Regions from separate parts of the Homo sapiens genome. Here region 1 is linked to region 2. The links come from fine-mapping of genetic effects on gene expression. Tissue or cell type: whole blood. Region 2 holds a variant in brackets; the other region holds the start of a gene. All regions are shown on one strand. Distances are between the middles of the regions.

Region 1 (8,104 bases), 84 kb after region 2:
ATAAGCCTTAATAAAGACAGGATGAGGCCAATTAAACTTGTTCTCCAAAATTTTATAAACAGCCTATAATATTAAATAGTTTAATCATCTTGACCATAAGATGTAATTTCCATAAGCCTTTTTTATAACCTTTTATTAAGGAGTGGGTTAACGCTCCAAGAAAACCTTGTTAATCTGACTCAGAGGCCCATATGCTAGTCTTGCATCAGTGCCTTCGACATTAATGGTTAATTTATAGAGAAACTAAACTTATTTTATCTCTCAAAATTGACCCTTACAATGTCACACACCCATGTCTTCCATGATAGTTCCTGGGTCTTGAGGAGTTGAATAGTTTTAATTTCTGGCCCTGTGTCTCATGAACACAGTTTATTTTGATTGGTATCTTCTACAGGGTCTGAAGATAAAGCTTTAACTGCTGTCAGTGTTTAAGATTTAGCCGGACTTGGCATCCTTTTTAGACCCAGGAGTCTAAACCCTGTAACTTGATGGCACAAGGACTTTAAAAGCACATACAGAAAGTTACACAGATGTAATAACCTTAATGAAAAATAGTTTTTCTTTTAATCTCAGTTTTTTCTAAGCAGACCAAAACTTAGTAATAATGACATAGGAATTATTTCAATATAAAGTGTAAAATCTGTTTGTTAGGCCAGTTACCCAAAAGCAAAAGCAAAGAGCTTCTGCACTGCGACTGCTGTTCCCTGTGGAGAATCCATTTAGATTAACTGCAAGTCAAAACTAATTAAAGAGATACTTGAATTAGTTATGAGAGGTGAAGCCAGCTGGGCTTCTGGGTCGGGTGGGGACTTGGAGAACTTTTCTGTCTAGCTAAAGGATTGTAAACACACCAATCAGCGCTCTGTGTCTACCTAAAGGTTTGTAAATGCACCAATCAGCACTCTGTAAAAACGCACCAATCAGCGCTCTGTGTCTAGCTAAAAGTTTGTAAGCACAACAATCAGCACTCGTAAAAACACACCAATCAGTGCTCTGCATCTAGCTAAAGGTTTGTAAACACACCAATCAGCACTCTGTAAAAACGCACCAATCAGCGCTCTGTGTCTAGCTAAAAGTTTGTAAGCACAACAATCAGCACTAGTAAAAACACACCAATCAGTGCTCTGCGTCTAGCTAAAGGTTTGTAAACAGACCAATCAGCACTCTGTAAAAACGCACCAATCAGCGCTCTGTGTCTAGCTAAAGGTTTGTAAATGCACCAATCAGCACTCTAAAAATGGACCAATCAGCACTCTGTAAAGTGGACCAATCAGCGCTCTGTAGAATGGACCGATCAGCAGGGCATGGGCAGGGCCAAATAAGGGAGTAAAAGCTCGCCACCCAAACCAGCAGCTGCAACTGGCTGAGGTCCTCTTCCACACTGTGGAAGCTTTGTTCTTTTGCTCTTCACAATAAATCTTGCTGCTGCTCACGCTTTGGGTCTGCACTACCTTTATGAGCTGTAACACTCATTGCAAAGGTCTGCGGCTTCACTCCTGAAGTCAGCAAGACCACGAACCCACCAGAAGTAAGAAACTCTGGACACATCTGAACATCTGAAGGAACAAACTCCAGACATACCATCTTTAAGAATTGTAACACTCACCACGAGGGTCTGCGGCTTCATTCTTGAAGTCAGTGAGACCAAGAACCCATAGGCAGGAACCAATTCTGGACACAGTTAGACATAGGAAGAGTGTTTCCTGGGTCGTAAGTGAAAATTTTTTATTTCATAGAACAATTTAAAGCCAAAAGCACAGAATATTATGTTGGAAGGAAACATTTCCTTTAGACCTTTAAGAGAAAACATTTTTAGCATCAGACCACAACAGAACCCGAAAAAAAAGAAGCTTACAGAAGCTGAAAATGAGTTGAAGAATAGAGTGATTATTTCAGGCACTTTAAAAGGGGAGAAAAAGCTGAAAACAGTGAGATGCAATACAAGTTGAAATTTACTTAAAAAATTATAATGTCTTTTATCAATTTTAATTTTATTAAGAATGAAGCAATACTTCAAGAAAATTCCATTGTTCTAACCAATTTTTTTTTTTTTTTTTTGTGTGTGACAGAGTCTCACTCTGTCACCCAAGCTGGAGTGCAGTGGTACAATCTCAGCTCACTGCAAACTCCGCCTCCTGGGTTCAAGCAACTCTCTGCCTCAGCCTCCCGAGTAGCTGGGATTACAGGCGTCTGCCACCACGCCTGGCTAATTTTTGTATTTTTAGTAGAGACGGGGTTTCACCATCTTGGCCAGGCTGGTCTTGAACCTGTGACCATGTGAGCCACCTGCCTTGGCCTCCCAAAGTGCTAAGATTCTTCAGTATATAAATGGTTTTTAGAAAATACCAAAACCCAATTCCTAGAAAGACCATTAAAAATAATTTCCCTTTAATTATAGACAACTTGATTATCTAAAAGCTTTTTTTTCCATAAATCCGCTTATGATTTACTCCAGACCATTCATGACATGCTTGTGAGGTAGAAGAATAGGGTCTGGAGGCAGGGAATCTAAGGCCAATTTGCCCTGACTTCCTAGAACTGAATCACAAGGAAAACCCCACCTCTCCACACCCAAGTAACAAAAGTATCAGAGGCTACTGTCTTTGCACTGCCTCACAGATAAAAATGGAAAGTACCTCTGATTGGTCCCCTCCCACAACCAATCAGACTTGTCGTGGGCCACTCCTTCACTTACATAGGGTATAACCAAGTAACCAATGGAAAACTTCTAGAGGGTATTTAAACTCCAGGAAATTCTGTAACCGGCCTCTTGAGCTCCTTGCTGGAGCCCAATCCCAGTCTGTGGAGTGTACTTTCATTTAAATAAATCTGTGCGTTCTTTGCTTCATTCTTTCATTGCTTGGTTTGTGCATTTTGTCCAGTTCCTTGTTCAAAATGCCAAGAACCTGGATGACTCATAGTCAAGACCCTCCACCAGTAACATATATTGGCGAGCCAGCCAGGAGGTAAGCCCAAAGTTTGGGATTTATTTTTCTTCTCTTGATTTCCCTTTTCCTCTCTGCTCCTTACAGGGGAACTCTTTTCTCTGTCTCTTTTTCCCTTTCCAGCTTGGAACCCTCGGTGGACAGTGCCTAAGCACAGAGGCAACCACAGGTTTCTAACAGGGCCACTCTCTGGTGAAACTGAAAGGTTTCTGTGTGAAAGTGCCTGACCACCACTGCCCAATTCAGGTGAGGGACCTGAGTCCTTTTCCTTTTTTCAGTCTTTCAGTGGCCGTTTCCTAGTAGCTTCTTGGTAATTGAGGGAAACTGGCCGGGACCACTCTCTACTGTTACCTGAAGGCCAAGGAGTGAACCTGGGATAGCTCTCCTGCCCAGAAGGCGGAAGGACTCTTTTGTATCTTTTTGAGTTATAGTCCCTGATCCCTACCTGTGATGCAATTGGCAGCAGAAGCTCGTCCAGGGTGAACTCACACACATTTCAGGCGACTTAAACCCTCTTTCTTAAGCTAAATTCTCCCATAAAGTTGGCCTGTAAGGACAAAAGATAATATCTCTTAGATATTTTGACCTCCCTTCTCCTACTGAATCTATTGACTGGCTGAGGACCTTTGGGACCCACAAGCTTTAGAACACATTCTACATCTTGGACCTCCACTTAAGGGAGCTTGGTGGTCATTGCTTTGGCATCAGTTTGCTTGCCCTGAACCCCGTAGAAATTCTATATATCTTTTATATACCCAATATAAACCCAATCTTTTATATAACCTCTGCACCATTTCTTCATGGGGAATATCCCACTAGCCTTGGTACCGTTAACTCTGCAGTGTTCGGGAACCTCCTTAGTCTTGCAAGGAATGCAGGAAGATATGGCCTATCTAAATTGGTAGGAAGCTAGAAGCTGAGACCTTCATCCAGGGACAAGAGAAAAGCTCATATTAGGCCATTGCCTCTGGAGGGAAAACATACAAAGCAACACTGGTGCCCACCTAAGGTCAGAGATGTCTGACACTTTTAGACTGGACCTCAAAGGGGGATGCCTAGGGGATCCAACTCCAGACCTCAGCCTCTCCAAAGGGGATGCCCTAGGCAAAGGTTCTCAGGTCTAGTACTAAGGCCTCCTTAGAATTGTCTCTCTCTTGCAGACCACTACAGGAAACACTCCATTTATTCCACCTGACTTCCCACTTGGCTGCATCCTCAACCATTGAAATGAATTTGACCCTGATAATCTAAGGAGGAAACATTTGATATTCTTTTGCAATAATACTTGGCCCCAGTATTGTTTGGAATCTGGAGTTTGCTGTTGAATGGGAAAGCAGGATGACGTTGCATGTATCCAGGCTTTGGTGCTGCTGTCCTAAGAAGGGTCAGGCCTAGTCAGCATATGGTGCTCTCCTTTGGTGCTATTTGGCTCCAGTGTCTTTGGAGTCTGAGGAGGTTTGGCCTTTAAAAATCAAACTGCCACCGGAACTGCTTTAAAAATGTTTGGTTCACAGCCTTCACTGGATTACCTATTGGAGCAAACAAAGTGTAACCATGTAAAACCTGTGAGCTTGTATTGATATCTCATGGCTAGAGTTCCAAGGTAAAAGCTATTGGATCTTCGTTTGTGTGTGTGTATACATGTCTAGATGTGTTTATTTGTATGTACACTTATTGTTATATGTTGTGTCAACCAAATCAGCTTATAAATAAAAAAGCACTCATAAATTAAATAAATAAGTCCAAGCAATTTTCAAGTTCATGTGACTTAAGTAAATCTTCATTAAATAGCTGGCTTTAAAATTATTGGTAAAATGAAAATAGAAATATCTTCAGAATTGTCAGCATACATTTTTGTCTGGGTTTTATATTTGTCTTTGCTAGAAATGTTGAAGTGTCAGCATTTGGCATAGAAGATTATAAAGCTATTAACCCAGCCAAAACAAAATGGCCTTAGTTTATGTGGCTTCTTTGACAAATGAGACTAATTTAATATTGTTAGCTAAATCTTCTGGGTTATTGGCAAAAACACCTATGTATTTAACTGTGAGGTTCTTATTTAGGTGAACACATAATGTTCATTGGCTATTAAAAATGGTTAACAAATAAATAACTAACTTTAAATGATGGTGTCTAATATCTCAGTTTTCAGAAGTAATCTAGATAAACTGTTAAAAATGAAAGACTTAAGTACATGTAAATGGGATGAATGATTAGGTAAATTTTGTGTAATTTAAAATCTTAAAAGTATTTTTGATGCCCATTGGATATCTCAGTCATTTCCAATTAAGAAAGGGTTATGATAGGGAGGAATATGTTTCCAAAAATTGTGGAATTATTCTCATCTATAAAATGCTAATATCTGATAGTTTAGGATTTTTTGCTTCCTAAGGTTTCACTAAAATTTAAGGTTACTAAGATGATATGGTTTGGCTTTGCATCCCCACCCAAATCTCTTCTTATAACTCCCATAATTACCGTGTGTTGTGGGGAGGGATCCAGTGGGTGAGAGATGATTGAATTATGCTGTTCTCATGATAGCGAATGGGTCTCATGAGATCTGATGGTTTTGAAAATGGGAGTTGCCCTGCACAAGCTCTCCTTTTGCCTGCTGCCATCCACATAAGATGTGATTTGCTCTTCCTTGCCTTCCACCATGATTGTGAGGCCTTCCCAGCATGTGGAAATGTAAGTCCAATAAACCTCTTTCTTTTGTAAATTGCCCAGTCTTAAGTATGTCTTTATCAGCAGCATGAAAACAGACTAATACATAAGGATATGAATTATAGTTAATATATAATTCTGTATACAAAATATGCCAAAAAATGTGTTATTGGTGAGAAAGAATTATTTTGTGTAGTTTGGAGGTTATCTGAAAGTTAATTCAAATTATGGACTTTAAAAAAAAGAGTTATTTATGAAACAAGGTAGTAAGGAACCAGTAAGTAGGGGAGAGATGTGAAGAAAGTTATATATATGAAGATATGTTTTTGTGAGGGAAGATTGTAGAGATGGTGGCTTTGTAGGAGAAAAGATCTTGTACGATAAATTCTTGTCCTAACGTAAAATGACTGGTTGTTTAAAAAGAAAGATGTTTAGGAAAACTCAGAAAGTCCAAGCATTTTGTAGATGGTCTGGGTAAGTTATGAAAAGAATTCATGTAAGAAAAGGATAATGTACCTTTGGTAAAAAGCATGGGAATGTGGATTTCTTGCCTAAGTTTAGAGGGTGAAAGGATGGTTTTAAGTGAGATAGGAATAATCTAAAAGGTTTGAACAAGTTGTGGAAGGCTTATGAAAAATTAATTGTAAAAGAGATTCTGTGTGTGAACATATTGGCTAAAGTTAAAGGGGAAGACTGGCAATTAGACTTCACCCATATGCCAGTGTGCAAAGTATACAAGTTTTTGGTAGTAGTAATAGATACTTTTACTGGCTGGGTTGAAGCTTGCTCTATGAGAACAAAGAAGGCTCATGAAGTTGCTAAGCTTCTTTTAAAGGAAATAAATCCCCTAGTTTGGGTTACCCCAAAGCCTCTAAAGTGATAAAGACCCATCTTTTAGAACTCAAGGGGCTGCTAAGGCTCTCAGAATCAAAAATTATTTACATGGGAAAGTAGAAAGGGCTAATCAAGCTCTTAAAATGGGTGTTAGCTAAGCTATGTTAGAAAACATCAGAAATTTGGGTCAGCTTATTGCCTGTAGCCCTCTTAAGAACCCTTAATTCTCCTAGAGCAAAAATTAATATGAGCTCATATGAAATGTTATACAGAAGGCCATTTTTTTTTGAGATGGAGTTTTGCTCTTGTCACCCAGGCTGGAGTGCAATGGCACAGTCTTGGCTCACTGCAACCTCTGCCTCCCTGGTTCAAGCAATTCTCCTGCCTCAGCCTCCTGAGTAGCTGGGATTACAGGCATGTGCCACCATGCCTGACTAGTTTTTGTATTTTTAGTAGAGACAGGGTTTCATCATGTTGGCCAGGCTGGTCTTGACCTCCTGACCTCAGGTGATTCGCCTGCCTCAACCTCCCAAAATGCTGGGATTACAGGCATGAACCACCGCTCCTGGCTGGCCATTTTTAAATAATGATCTAATTACTGATCCAGAAACAGCCAGTTTAGTAACATGCGTAATTAACCTGGGACAATTTCAGCAGGCTTTACAAAAGTTTAGAACTCAAAGACTCCCCACACCAGGAACTAACCAGCAACCCAAAATCAGGCCAGGAGATAAAGTACTTGTTAAAACATGGAAGGAGGGATCACCTGCTGAACAATTACAACCCAAATGGAAGGGACTATTTTCAGTGGTACTGGCCATGCCTTCTCCAGTCAAAGTACTGGGAATAGTTAGTTGGATATGTCTTTCCAGGGTCCAGCCTGCAATAACTGAAGCCCCCAGACCTGGAACCTGAAGATCCCATCAGCCACTAAACCTGTGAACCTGTAGAAGACCTGAAGTACCTGTTTAAAAGGCAGCCAAAAGATAAGTAAATTCCTATCAACTTTCCTTGGTGTCCTTCTTGTATATTTACTGTAAGCTGGATATAATAGTAGCCATTTTTATATTTTTACAATTTAATTGCTTTCTTCCAAATGGATTGAATCACTTCTTTTAAAGTGTTTTAATTAATTTTTATCTATAGAACAAAATAACAAATAAGTATTTTTTTTTTATACCATAATGGTCACCCACAGCCTGTGTATACTAAGACCATGCATACTGATAATCAGCTTTATTTTACAAAAGAGTTTCGCTTTACCCCTCTGGTAATTAATGGATTCTGGGTATTTATTAAAAACTTTAACACAAAGACTGTTAAATACCACCAGTCCAGCTTTGGCAAGGCACTGTTGGCTTTGTTTATCTCCATCATCATCCAAACAGACTACCAATCCTGATCCCAGCCCAATCTTGGGCCCTTGAAAAAATAACTTAACATCCTAACTACAAGGGAGAAACTCCTTTCAAATTAATGAACCTGGCTGACTTATATAGCCTTAAAATTATGGAAATGACAAGGGTTACAATGTCAGAATGAGCAGTAAACCTTCCCCAGTCCTATCAGAGCAAACTTTCTGGGGTTGCATCCCCTCAGAAACCCATTTGGGGCCCAATCTCAATGCACATATCAGTGCGCAAAGCACTAAAATTCCAGGC
Region 2 (8,104 bases):
TGCCCCCAAAAATGCATGTTGGTGCCAGGCACAGTGGCACTTGTCTGTAGTCCCAGCTACTTCAGAGGCTGAGGTGGGAGGATTGCTTCAGGCCTGCAGATCAAGGCTGCGGTGCACTGTGATCACACCTGTGAATAGCCACTGGACCCCAGCTTGGGCAACAGAGTGATACCCCATCTCTAAAAAAATAAAAATAAATGCATGTTGGAAGGCCTGACCACAGCCATTTATAACAACAAGAGCCACCCAGGGCCAACAGGAACGAACCCTAAGAGCCAGGCACGGCAATGACACCTGGAGCACTTCTGCCCCCAAGGTCAGGACACAGAGGTGGCCACGGCTGGAATACCCAGCCCCACCCCCACGTGCCCATGCCTCCATCTGCCCTGCCCATGTCTGTCTGTCCAGCAGAGGAAGTATGACCTGCACTACCGCATCGCCCTTGTCGTCAACTACCTGGGCCACTGCGTATCTGTGGCAGCCCTGGTGGCCGCCTTCCTGCTTTTCCTGGCCCTGCGGTGAGTCTGCCCTTCCGCCTTGCTTTCTCCTCATCCCTCCCCCTACAGCACCCCCTTCACCTCTCCCAGACATTCTCACCTCCATTCTGGGGCCCAGCAGATAAAAGGGCCCGTGGAGAAAGTGGGGTTTGGGTGGGGTGCCAGGGCATGAATCACCAGCAGGCATGTGGGGTGCAGAGTGGGAGCTGGACTCAGAGGCCCAACTGTGGCCACCATGGGTGGGAAGTGGCTCCTAGTGCAGCCCTGCCCTCATCCCAGGCTGAGTCTCTACCTGGCCTCAGGGGGAACCCAGTCCCAGTTGACCCCTGAACCTGGCTGACCCCTGACCTGCACCTCCCACAGGAGCATTCGCTGTCTGCGGAATGTGATTCACTGGAACCTCATCACCACCTTTATCCTGCGAAATGTCATGTGGTTCCTGCTGCAGCTCGTTGACCATGAAGTGCACGAGAGCAATGAGGTCATTGCTCGGGGAGACTCGGGGCTATACCTGGGGGGCTCTGGGCTCCGGGGGCACCCATCTGTCTGTCTGGTCTCTGCTTGGACCCCTCCTTTGTCAGGAAGCTCACTACCTGCTAAAGCAGCCCTCTTCTTCTTGAGCAGCTTTTACTCTTACAAGCTCTTCCTAATGTTGAACTTCTGCAACTCCACCCCATTCTTGCCCCCACTCTGAGAACAGATCCCCTCTGCTCTCTCCAGGCTCTGAGACAGACCCCTTGGAGATTTGCACACAGAGACTGATGTTCACCAGTCCCTGCTACTCTCAGCTGGTGACAACTGACTTTCTGGCTGCTCCTTGGCTGACCCATGGCCAGAATGCTGTCATCTGGGCTGTGGCTCAGGTGCAAAACCAGACCTGAGCTCACCTCCACCCTAGCCATTGTCCCAACAGAGCTGGGCTGGGAGGAGCAGGAAGCTGCCAGGCTGGGAGCTTCACAAAGCTGACTCTAGACACATTTATCCTAGTCCACTCCTCATCTTGTGGATTCAGGTGCCCTCAAAGACCCCTTTGAGAAAAGGAAGCTAGAACTAACCTCTGTTGAGCTTTCTCTCACTTAATCCTAATGAGACCAGCAGGGATCATTTTCCCCATTACATAGACATGGAAACTGAGACTCACAGAGGTTAAGTGACTCGCCAAGGTCACATGCAGTGATGATACCTCTACATAAGGGGCTATCCCACATGCTAACTGTCCACTCTGGATTTCTGTCCATTGCTGTGTACTGTGTCCAAGCTATTGTAAAACTGTAGACTAGTCTTGGGCCATCACAGAGCCCTGTGGCACACCGACAGAGACTTCTCAGTACATTTCCTTTGGGTGGCCTGTGCCTGAGCAGACACCAGCCTGGTGTGATCCTTAACATGGTCCCACATAGAACACTGCCTCAGAATCAAACAGGTTCACTCGAGTTGAGGGTGCCTTCTAGCTCCAACGTGGGCTTGTGCTAATAGAACATCATCAACCCTGGATGAAAAGTAGGGTTGGGAGGAGGGGCTTGGTAGCTTCCCACCTCAGCAGGACTTTCTCAGAAAAAAGGAGACAGCCAGCCACAGGGACTGTGCAGGGAAGCCCAGAAGCAGCCAACAGCTCAGCACAGGAGGGTTATCTGAGAACTGGGGCTGTCAGAGCCAGACAGAGAGGATGGGCTGTGTGCAGAAGCAGAGCCCCTGACGCACAGCTCCCCGGACCTTGAGCTGGCTCCATCATTCCCCATGTCCCAGCCTTGGCTCTCAGGGTGCCCTGGGGATGAGCCTGTGGGGAAGATGACCAGGTGGGGTCTGTTGAGAGGAGCTCTGGCCTGGAAGCCCAATGTCTAGACCCTGGCCCTGCCATGGCCCACTGCGTGGCTCTAAAGGGGCAGGGTCTTCCCCTCCCTGCCTCCTTTGGGAAGGTAGCCTTGGTGCCTGGGGAAGGGTGGCCTTGCTCAGAGGGACAGGGACACATTCCCCTCTGCTGGGAAGGCACGGAACCACAGCAGGCACAACCACAGCCACAACACAGCTACCCTCATGCCTGTCTTTGCCATCCTCTATCTCCTTCAACCACCCTGGAAGGCAGGGTTACTTTTTGAGGTTCAGAGAGGTGCAGTGACTTGCCGGGGGCCGTGTACTTTGCAAGTCTCCCTCCAGAGCTAGTAATAATTGTGCCAAGTCCAGAAGTTCCCAAACCCAGAGTCTTTGGAGAATCCCCTCCCTGGCCGCAGCCCCACTTCATACACCCTTGACTCACTTTACTCACTTTTATTTTTTCATTTTTTTCTAAATGAAATTCCATATCCCATCCCCAAAAGGAAGCAGGTCTGACTTGCTATGGATTGAAAATGACTCAAAAAAACTAAAATGAAAACACAACAAGATGGTTGAATTCCAGCCTCTGCCTACAGAAAGCTCAGAGCCAGACTCTTGCTCTCTTTACTAGAATGAAAAATTAGAAAGAGTTAGAGAGAAGTTAAAAAAAACACGTTGGCCCCAGTGGAGAATGGCACCTTAACTTAATCTGAAAGTGTGAAAGAGCACTGGAGAAGGATGAAGCTTTTCAGAGTGAGGTTCGCTGGTATTTGATGGCATGTCCACGAACCCCCTTTGGGGAGCCCTGTGTCTTGTTGCCCTGCCTGGGGATGGGTATGTCCTACCTGGGCCCCAAGCTGCCTCCTGACAGCCTCTCTGCCCTGCACACAGGTCTGGTGCCGCTGCATCACCACCATCTTCAACTACTTCGTGGTGACCAACTTCTTCTGGATGTTTGTGGAAGGCTGCTACCTGCACACGGCCATTGTCATGACCTACTCCACTGA[G/C]CGCCTGCGCAAGTGCCTCTTCCTCTTCATCGGATGGTGTGAGGGTCCCAGGGGCAGCAGGGCCTAGTTGGGGGGAGGACTTCTCACCAGGCCATTTCCCTTCGTCTTGGGTCCAAGGACCAGAGCCTGGCCCTGCCCTCCACCCCCAGCGCAGTCCGGTGGATGCAGCTACTTCCCTCCATGCTGGTGAGGAACAAGCAAAGGATCTCTCCAAAGGATATTCCTCAAATAGCTCTTCTCCCCCTGCCAGGAAGGACCTGTCCAAAGGCCTTTGTCTCTGGCTCAGAAACTGGCTGGCTCTACTTCTCTATCACAAAATCACGCAGCCCTGCTTGGAGAGAGGGGCAGGGGCATGGGCCAGGTGTTGAGGGACAGGGCACCCCTGGGGTTGTGGGTGGCCTGCTGTTGGAAGAGTAAAAACATGATCCTAGCCCTGTTGTGGTACCCCACGGTATGTCCTACAAGAAAGTCCCTGTCCATCTGTCCCCTGCAGCCCAAGTCTTTCCTTCTTTCAGGCATCCCCTTCCCCATCATCGTCGCCTGGGCCATCGGCAAGCTCTACTATGAGAATGAACAGTAAGTGGATGGGCCAGCCATGGGGGGTCATGGGGAAGGGAATGGGGGTGTTAGGACAGGTCAGCCTTGGGCTCTGGCCAAGCCGTGGAGCAGGAATTGTAGCCACACCTAGACAGATCCACGTTCCTGTTGTCCTTAAATTGAAAAAAATAGTCCTGCACTCAGAGGTACTCACATGGTAGGGCTCAAGGAACTTTGCTGAATTAAGTTAGGAATTGTGGTTCCTTGAAGTGCCCCCCGACCCAACGCATGACCCCTTTGGTCTTTGTAAGGCCTCCTCAGACTTGGATGTGGCAGCTCTGGCCCGGGGTATGTGGAAGGGGCCAAGGCCGCACATGACATCCAGAGCTGTCCATGAGCATTTAAAGAGTCCATGAGCATTTAACAGAGCTTGTTTTTTTTTCTGAAGTCTCAGTCTCTGCCTGGGTGCAGTGTCCCATCCTGAGGTTCTCCCTATGCCAGAGGCTGTAATATGCTGAGCCACAGCCCAAATGACAGCAACTCTGGCCATGGGTCAGCCAAGGAGCAGCCAGAAAGTCAGGTGTCACCAGCTGAGAGCAGCGGGGACCAGGGAACATTAGCCTGTATGCAAATCTCCAAGGGGTCTGTCTCAGAGCCTGGAGAGAGCAGAGGGGATCTGTTCTCAGAGTGGGGGCAAGAATGGAGTAGAGTTCCAGGAGCTCAACATTAGGAAGAGCTTGTAAGAGTAAAAGCTGCCCAAGAAGAGGGCTGCCTTGGTAGGTGGTGAGCTTCCTGTCAAAGGAGGGCTCCAAGCAGAGGCCAGAAACCCTGGGAGACAGGGAGAATCCTATCTGAGGCAGGTCTGCACTGGATGACCTCCAAGATTTCAGAGGAATGAGTTCCCCAAAGTTGATGGCCCCTCCCTGTGGTCCAGTAGTTGCTGGCCGACCCAGACCCTAAAGCATTTCCCCTGACCAGCATCCCCGGAGAATGAATTATGCCTCTGGCAGCCAGTGAGGCCAGCCAGGCAGCAGCTCCCCTCACTGGGTGCACAAGCATTGGCTCAAAGACGCAAAATCCCAGGCTGGAGGTAGGAAGGCTCCACTTCCACATCTGCTGCTTTGTGTGGCCGAGTGAGTGCCTGGCACACGGAACAGCGGGTTTCAAGCAATATGGGAACAGGTGGCCTAAGGCAATTGGCCCTGGGCCAGCAAGGGGGAGCCCAGCTCTCCCTTTATTCCTGTGCCTCCTGCATGCCCAGTCCTATGCCTAGCAGTCTGCAATGGGGCAGGTAAAAGAGGAGGAGAAAGAGACCCATGGCCTGTCCTCAGTCGGGCTGGGGAGATCAGACCCACCATGTAGAGCAAAAGACAGCCTGGTGGGTAAGGGTGGTCAGTGGAGCTGGTATTTCCACCAAGGCTTTCTGGGAAGGGGCAGTCCTGGAGATTGGGTCTCAGGAAGGGTAAAGCTGGAGGACCCTGGGCCCAAGTCTGTGGGGGTCCCCCAGTTCCAGCTCAGGAGGCCCCCTACAGCCACCCCATCTTCACAGGTGCTGGTTTGGCAAGGAGCCTGGCGACCTGGTGGACTACATCTACCAAGGCCCCATCATTCTCGTGCTCCTGGTAAGCCCTCAGCGGTGGCTGGGATGGGGCTGGGTGCCAAGAGGACAGAAGAGGGCCCACCCAGGCAGAGACGCTGGGAAAGATGTGGCATGGGCAGCCCTGCGCACACACTCTATATGCCACCCCCGTACCCTGTCCATGCCACCCTGTGCCCCAGCACCACCCGGCCTTCCCTTCCTCATGCTCGATGCCCTGGCGCAGCCCTGCACCACTCTGCTGACCTCAGGGCTCTTTCTCTGGGAGGAGAAAGGATCTGATGGGTAGACTTCCTGTGCCCTCCCGGTCTGACACTGTACAATGCTGAGAAAGCCAGGTGAGCAGGCAGCTGGTGACAAGAGAAGAGTGTGCGGGCTTCTGTTCATTCCAGACCTACGTTCCCCTCAGCCCCCAGTGACCCTCTCCAGGTCCAGCCCACCACCCCCAGCCTGAAGCGGTGAATACCGGGATGCAGCATAATGAGGAATTGTTCCTTGTCCAGCTCCCTGCCCTTTGCCAAATGTATTTGCATCTAAGGTATAATTGCCACACATCTTTAATCCACAATGAGCTTTAATTAAGAGAGAGTTCAAGTAGAGGCTGCATTCTGCAAAAGGAACCCATTATATATCATACCTTTAAAAAAAAGAGAGAGAGATAAAGAAAGAAAGACATACAAAAAAGCCCCGTAAGAAATTGGCATTTACGTAAGACTTATTTCAGGCTCAGTAATTTCAGGCTCCTGTATGTACCAGCTTCCTTAAAGGGCCACAGTTCCTTCTGGGAGACTCAGCGAGAGTGCCATCTCCTCCTGCACACAGAAGGTGCCTGGTGGGGCTTTCTTTTGTCTACCTTGGAGACAATTATTATTTATCTCTTTTATTTTCTTACTCTCCTTTTTCTGTGACTTCGGGTTTCATTTGACCTCCATCTTTGGAGTGTCCTTGATATATGTGAACTGATGAAGACTAGGAAGGTTTTTCACCCACTGCTGGAAATTCCACCGTCAGGGCTTGGTTCGCTTCAGAGGCAGAAGCCAGGTTTTGTCAGCAGCTAGTAGGATTGTCCTTGGACTCCCAGCTGCAGTGAGTCACTCACCCCTCAGTGTGTATGGAAACCCCATGAGATCCTTTCCCTCCCAACCAGCTGCCAAGGGCCATCCTGGAGGAATAAGGCTTTTGATGAGCCTGGAACTGAGCCAAGGAAGGCTGGCCTGGATGGGGGACCAATGGTGGCAAAGAGTAAGCCCCAACTGTAAAGATGTTGGAAGGGTGGTGAGGAAATGCCAAGAGAAAGGGAGGCGAGGAACGCAAGAGCTCAGTGTCAAGACCCAGCTCCATGCTTCCTCTTCCAGACCCATTCTCTGGCTCCACCCCTGCGTCTGTGCTCACGAGCCCTTTCCTTCTTTCCTTTGGGCCCAGCTCTTTGCACCAACAGGGGCTTCCACATTCCAAGCTGAGCCCTTCCAGAAGCTCTATCTACATTATTTCCAACCCTTGCATGCTCAAGTCCTAAAAGAAGTAGGGTTATGCTCTCCATTTTACAGAGGAAGAAGCTGAGAGAGATGAAGTGGCTTGCCCAAGGTCACCACTAATAGCTAGCAGAGCAGAGGCTCAAAGGCAGGTCTCCTGCTTTGTCCCCACCATCTGCCTGTTGTCCTCGAGGTTGGACACGTGTTTGGTGTTCCTGCCATCCCTACACTCCCCAGCAGCTCACAGCTGCATTTCTGCTGCTAAGAGACACTCACTTATTTCTGGTTCTGAGAAGTGAATCAGGTGGTTGAATTTGCAGGAAGCCTGACTTCTTGCTGGTGTTGTCATTGTTGGTGTCATGGGAAAGGATTGGCAGTCACTAGGCCAGACACAGGTCTTAGTGGTCTCTGTGACTATTTCAGCCCATGCTGATCTTCTAAGGCAAGCTCTGTGGTTAGGCCCCTCGGGGGCAGACAAGGAAGCAGGAGCTCATGAGGTTAAGCAACTTACCCAAGGCCACACAACTGCAAATTGGAACAGTCAAAATTTGAGCCATGAGACTAGGACTTGGTGCTTCAGTTCATTTGGGAGGGGGGCCTCATCTTCAGTTCTTAGCCCATCTGCCATTTCTCCAGGTCTTTTTGACACCTTAGGAAAGATGTCATCTCCCCCACCCCCAACCCCTCCAGGCCCCCAGCTAGGCCACAAGCCCTCTGCAAGCAGGGGCTGTGACTGCCTGTCCACTTCGCCATCGCTGATGCCTGGCTCAGAGCCTGACACATGGTCCATTGATTCATTGAATGAATGAACAATTAAATAAAACCAGAAACAGGCTGAACGAGGGCAGGGTACAATAGACAGTTCTTACTAAAGAACTGGAGTGTGTTTTTAGCAGGGAGGTAGAGTCCAAGAATGGAAAGCCGGAGAGCTCAGTGTGGGCAGGGTGACCAGAAGGCTCCCTGGAGAGAGAGGAAGGTACCTGTGGTGGTGTGAAGGGGGAGGCTGGGAAACAGGCTCAAAGGAAAGAAGGATTTTCAGGTTACATAGACCCAAGCTGAGATGAGTGGGGCCACATAACTAAATGTCTGCCAAGTGTAAGGATGGAGACAAGGCCTTGGTTGCTAGGTAGATGAATGGATAGACGGATGGGCCAGTGGATGGGCAGATAAAAGAGTAGGTGG

Evidence for each region. PIP is the estimated chance that this variant, and not a neighbour inherited with it, causes the effect.
Region 1: it holds the start of GARS1-DT, and the variant in region 2 is fine-mapped to the expression of GARS1-DT in whole blood (TOPMed, PIP above 0.99).

What each region holds. Positions count from the first base shown.
Region 1 is chr7:30,574,093-30,582,196 of GRCh38, reverse strand. It overlaps GARS1-DT (GARS1 divergent transcript), which reads left to right and starts at 4,418. Exons shown (of 7, transcript NR_038889.1): 1 at 4,418-4,548; 2 at 5,487-5,633.
Region 2 is chr7:30,657,944-30,666,047 of GRCh38, reverse strand. It overlaps CRHR2 (corticotropin releasing hormone receptor 2), which reads left to right. Exons shown (of 12, transcript NM_001883.5): 4 at 409-518; 5 at 861-978; 6 at 3,201-3,354; 7 at 3,832-3,892; 8 at 5,403-5,475. LOC124901609 (a long non-coding RNA gene) reads right to left here. Exons shown (of 2, transcript XR_007060276.1): 2 at 6,007-8,104. Among named protein-coding and RNA genes, the nearest start is that of CRHR2, 20 kb to the left of the region's middle. RefSeq lists an enhancer at 3,368-3,910. The variant G/C (reference allele first, on the strand shown) is at 3,317.